Regions from separate parts of the Homo sapiens genome. Here region 2 is linked to region 1. Evidence: fine-mapped expression QTL. A gene starts in region 1. The other region holds a variant in brackets. All regions are shown on one strand. Distances are from middle to middle.

Region 1 (2,500 bases):
TGCATGAAGAACGAAATACCAAAGTAATAAAATGCAGACCAATTCATAGACAGCTAGATCTTTCTTCACATCTGCAAAAAACAGATTCATCATCTCGTGGGGCCAAACACATATCATCTAGTGGATGCCTGAATAAAGATGAGGCCTGTACTTGGCTCTGAGTTTATTAATCCAAACAAGACTTTGACTGTCAGCATTCTGCAGTTTTCCTGATGGAGAAATCAGGCACCGAGGGCATAGTACAGGCAAGTCACAGTGAGTGTGGAGCAGGTGCCAAGGGCCACTGAATTCTGACTTATTTGGGATCAGTGGGAGGAAGGGAGCAAATGAATGCAATTTAAACATCACTGGCTTGGCCGGAGTCTTTCTGTCTGCTCCTCTGTAAGGGTGCCTGAACAAAGGCTCTGTGTCTAGTGCCCAGCACCGTGCCTGGCACAAAAACGGATATCAGTAAATATTTGGAATTCGTGAATAGCAGGTCCTTTCATCTTTACATCCCCAAAGCTCCTTCAAATAAGTTCGTGCATTTCATGCTACGAGATGGGCACCATCAACCCCATTATATTGGTGGGGAAACAGTGGCTCAAAAGAATGGACTGACCGACCAAGTCAAGACAGCAGCGAGGGTCGCGGTCCTAACCACACCACAGCTGCAGGACACTTAGATCTCAGCCACGCCCACCCACATGCACCGCCCCCCCCCCACCTCCTCCGCTGCTTACACGACGCCCCCACCTCGCGCCCCAGTCCCGCCAGGCTGGGGACAAGGCACAGCAGCGTCCTCTCGGCCTCTCCCAGGCCCCAATTCGACACAACCATTCCCCGTCCCCAGCCCCCGGACGAGGAGGGGGTGCAGCCCCTCCACCCCGCCCCGTCGCCGCCCCTAGCCCGACCTTTTTGTCCCAGATTTGCAGAGGCTTGCTGCCGATGCTGTAGAGGATGGAGAGGAAGCCGCTCTGGAACGTGTTTTTGAACATCTCGCCGGCGGCCTTCTCCTAAGCCGCCCCCGGAGCCGACCTAGGCCCCGGAGTAGATACAGGCACCGAGCGTCGAGGGCACAGCAGCAGGCCGGCCCTGTTCCGAAGAAGGGTGGTTGAGCTCCTGGCCTCCGGATCTGCAGCCACTGATGGCCGGACTCGGACGCGGCAACGCTAAGTCCGCGATCTTCAGCTCCTAAGCTGCGAGCTCAGAACGGAAACCACAGCAACTACCGTCCGCGCCGCGGTATTTCCCCGCCTTCAATGGAGGCGGAGGGCCGCCCGTTGCTTAAAATGAATCCCTCCGCCCATCTGAGCCCGCCCCCCGGGAGCGCGGGGCCCAATCCCGTTACAAGGACCACGGACTTCCGTTTCGTTCCGCCTGTAAGTCCCGCCTGGTCCCGCCTCCTCCTGAAAAGAGCTCAGTTGTCAAGGAACTATTTTTCTTGCCGTCGTCCCAGAGATGCCTTTGGAAAAGCGGAAGGGCACGGAGGGTTCTGGAGTTCGTTGCTGGCACCTGCGTGGTGTCATGAGAACGTGGCGGGGCGGTGAGTGACGTGAGGGGGCGTGACGGCCAGGCCGGGAGTAGTTGCCCGCGCGGGAGAACAGGGGCTGCGCAGGGAAAGCGGCTTTGAAAAAGAGCTTCTTGGCGTCGGGCGGACGCCCAACACATGCTTGTCGGCCAAGTACAGGATAAGGTTAAAGGGAACTAACCAATATTCAGCACTAACTGTGATAAGCGCCTAATATACATCCCTGCCTGTCATTATTCACATTGTGGCATGCAGTCAAAGCGACACTCTGAGGAAAATGTATCGCCTTAAATACATTGATTAGAAAATAAGAAAGCCCGAACATGATTAGGCCGGGCGCGGTGGCTCACGGCCGAAATCCCAGCACCTTGGGAGGCCGAGGCAGGCGGATCGCTTGAGTCCAGGAGTTCAAGACCAGCCTGGGCAAAAAAGCGAGACCCTTCCTCTACAAAAAAATACAAAAATCAGCCGGGCGTGGTGGCGCGCGCCTGTAATCCCAGCTACTTGGGGGGCTGAGGTGGGATGATCCCTTGAGCCCGGGAGGAGGAGACTGCAGTGAGCCGAGACCACGCCACTGCACTCCAGCCTGGGCGACAGAGCGAAACCCGGTCTCAAATAAATAAATAATCCTGAACATTAAGATAAAGGCAGACATTCATAAACAAAATTAAGAAAGTTGAGTTGAACCAACAGCTGATTTTTATTTTATTATTTATTTGTTTATTTATTTTTGAGACAGGATCTCGCTCTGTCACCTAGGCTGGAGTGCAGTGGCGCGATCATGGCTCACTGCAGCCTCGACCTCCCCTGCTCAGCCTATCCTTCCACCCAGTCTCCAGAGTAGCTGACTACAAGCGTGGGCCACCATGCCTGCGTTAATTTTTTGTTTTTGTAGAGACAGGGTTGCACTGTGTTGCTCAGGCTGGTCTCAAACTCAGGCTGGTCTACACTCCAGCCTGGGCAACACAGTCTCTGAAAAATAAAAATAAA
Region 2 (3,014 bases), 500 kb before region 1:
CTGGCCAATGCATTGGGGTGCCCATTGTCTGCCAGGCCTGGGCTGCAAGATTTACGCATGTGGCCTCATTTAATCGGCCCAATAGAAGGTGCTATTTTGGTCCCCACTTGGCAGGCGAGGAGATAAATGGATGGAGAGATGCTTGCCCAAGTCATCCAGCTGGCCGGCTGGGAGTAGAGGCCAGCTGGCCTGAACCCAGAGTCTGTGATCACAGACTCCGGGCTCAGAGAGGGTGCAGCAGCATTGCCCCCTCTCCTCTGTCCCTCAAAACGAAGGGTTTCCTGCACCTTCAGCTTTCTGCTTTCCCCACACCATCTCTGGACTCCGTCGCCAGCCAATGATGCCATGACCTTCTCTGGGCCTGGCGACCCCAGTCCCTCACTGCTGAGCCCCAACGACGTGTTTCCAGCTGCCTTGGGAAGCAGGGGGGACCTGTGGCTTCCCCACATGACACAGAGCTGCCCCCATTCCATTGCACACAGGGCAGTCTCTTCTCTGCCTTCCGGATCTGCACCCCATCCTGTGCCCCGATTCTTCAGGGACGTTTCAGACATCTTCCCCCTCTCCTCGGTCCCCACCTTCACTTGTCGGGTTGTGGGGGGTGGGGTGTCCCAGCCCTTTTCCTGGTCTCTTGGACCAAAGTCTCCTCCCCCGCTCTTCCCCCATCTGCCTCCTTCGAGGCCCCATCCGGACCCAACTTCCCCTCTACTCCTCTGCCCATCCCTCCGCATCATTGCTGGTACAAGTCCCTGGCGTCTAGACCAGGGCTTCTCACACCTCCAATTCTGGAATCCCCTGGGCATCTTATTAAAATACACATTCAGATTCAGCAGGTCTCAGGCTATCTGTAGGTCTGAAGACCACATTTTGAGGGCTAATCAGGCCTCTCCCTACCCAAACATCTTCTCTGGCTCCCCAGTACCTTTGATTTAAGCCCAAACTCTACACTTTCAAAATCTTCCAGAATCTGCCCCTTGCTGCCCAGTTAGATCCCACTTCCTTCCAAGCATGGCTCCATGCCCTACCTCTCCACCTCAGCCAATGCTGTTCCCTCTGCCTGGGGTGCCCTTCCTGCTGGTCTCTGTTTATCGAAGCCCCCTTCTTCTCCTTCAGGTCCCAGCAGGGGCTCTGGGGTCTACACGCTTAGTTCAGATCCTGGCTGTTATAGAAAGGCGTGGGTAGCCCTCCCTGTACCTCGGTTCCCCTTCTGTAAAGTGGGGATAGACTGTTGTGAGAACAGAAGGAGAAGATGAAGTGCCTAGCAGGGGCCGGATATCTGGTGTCCCGTGTTTGGTTACAGCCCACACACCTGGAGGCCCAGCCAGGTCCAAGCTGTGCGACCTTGGCTAAGTTACTTCATGTCTCTGACCATCTCTAACATACAAGTGGTACCCAACCCACAGGGTTGTGTGGATAAAATGAGAATGATCTGTACAAGCAGAGCATCTTACACCATAAAACCTCCAGACATAGCAGGTGATTATTAGTCCTGTTATCAGCACTCATAACAGATAGTGTTGTGTTTAACAAGTCATTGAATTTCTCCCCCTTTACTCCCAGAGACCCCTGGATGCTGAATACCAACTCCAGGTATCGCTACTATGAGAACCAGGCTTGTCTCTCTAGCCAGACTCAGAGCTGGGGGCCTGCTTCCTCACCTGCCTGCCCCTAGCTCATAGTAGGTCTCTGCAAAGTCCGACGGTGAGAGAGGCAGGCAGAGCTGGGCAGCCAACTCCGCCC[A/G]GCCAGGCAGCCCCATAAGCCTCTCCTATGTGGCCAGAGTGGCAGCTGGCTCCGCACTCTCTTCAGCCATCTGCAGAGAGAGTGGTGCCTTCAACTCTCCATCTGTGCCCTTCTGGTCAGCACGCTCTGTGGGGTGTGTGTGTGGTGGTGGTGGTGGGGGGACAGCTGCCCTGTGGGCCTGGTCCCTGGGGAACAGCTGAGGCTGCCCGGGTTACCAGTTGATCAGGCCCTGAAGGACTGACCTTGGGGAAACTGAGGCAGAGGTGGTGGTATGTCAGGGACAACCCATCCTCCCCTAGATAACTCACTTGTCCTCCCTTGTTAGTGGGCCCCCAGTGTAGGCTGGCCTCTGCTGCTTTGGCAATAAGGGAGTTCCCACTGCAGCCCCGGGAGAGAGCAGAGGGTATGACATGGGCCCAGTCCCCACTGTGCCTCCCTGCCCCAGGTATTGGCCCACAGCCTGGACTGGGGACTGTGAATGTGGGAAGCACAGTGCCGTTTTCTGGAAGCTCTCACCTTATGGCCTCCCTGCACCCCACGGGGTGGCTTTGTGGCCCTTCCTTTCTGCAGCTTGATTTCAAGCAGGTAGGTGAGGAGTGCAGTTCACCTGCAGCAGCCCTGGCTCCTAGGCTGCCCGAGACGTTCCATTCATTCTTCCTCCACGTGGCATGGGGAAGCTTTTCCTGGCCCCCTTGTTTAGAAGGCAGATCTCTACCGGAGAGAAGGAATCTCAAGTTCCCCAAGCATCCACGTGTCCAGGCCCCAGGCTGAGGCCTGGGGTGCTGGATTGCTGAGTGGTTAGGAGACCCGCTATGGAGCCAGACGGCCTGTGCTCCCGCCATCCCAACTCGGGCACCTCCCTGCTGTGTGATCTTGGGCAGGTTAATTCTCATCTCTGAGCTACATGTATCTGCCTTAAGCTCCCTCTTCTTCATCACCACATTCACAGGGAGTATTTATTGAGGGCTTGGCAAGTACCAGGCACTGGTCTGAGTAGCAGGTTTGACTTCTCTCCACTGCCAGGGGCGCTCTGGAGCTGGAATGCAGACGGTGGTCAGCGAGTGTAATTACTGTTATTGTCACCACTCACCCTTCTGGCATTGTAAAAGCCTCCCAGCACATCTGACTGAGGAATCATCTATCCTCATTGCTCGGAGGAGGAGGGCAGACAGGAGCCTCTGCAGGGAGTGTGAGTTATCCAAAGCCTCCTGACTCGAGAAGGGCACTGAACCCCAGCAGCGGGAGGTGCTGCTGACAGAGGAATGACCAGAAGG

Which allele goes with the higher level. Positions count from the first base shown, and alleles are read on the strand shown. Sizes are in standard deviations (SD) of each study's normalised expression.
For the expression in macrophages after interferon gamma of the gene that starts at base 1,243 in region 1, allele A in region 2 goes with a lower level than allele G (large effect, 0.87 SD a copy in Alasoo 2018).

The links.
Region 2: its variant is fine-mapped to the expression of CFAP20 in macrophages after interferon gamma (Alasoo 2018, PIP 0.95).

Annotation. Positions count from the first base shown.
Region 1 is chr16:58,128,139-58,130,638 of GRCh38, forward strand. CFAP20 (cilia and flagella associated protein 20) reads right to left here and starts at 1,243. Exons shown (of 6, transcript NM_013242.3): 1 at 894-1,243. The coding sequence starts at 977. It overlaps LOC101927556 (a long non-coding RNA gene), which reads left to right and starts at 746. Exons shown (of 4, transcript NR_188516.1): 1 at 746-1,525. RefSeq lists enhancers at 507-1,428, 968-1,137, 1,429-2,349 and silencers at 768-907, 2,030-2,267.
Region 2 is chr16:57,624,839-57,627,852 of GRCh38, forward strand. It overlaps a transcript of ADGRG1 not described here. Among named protein-coding and RNA genes, the nearest start is that of ADGRG1, 2.3 kb to the right of the region's middle. RefSeq lists an enhancer at 2,973-3,014. The variant A/G (reference allele first, on the strand shown) is at 1,741.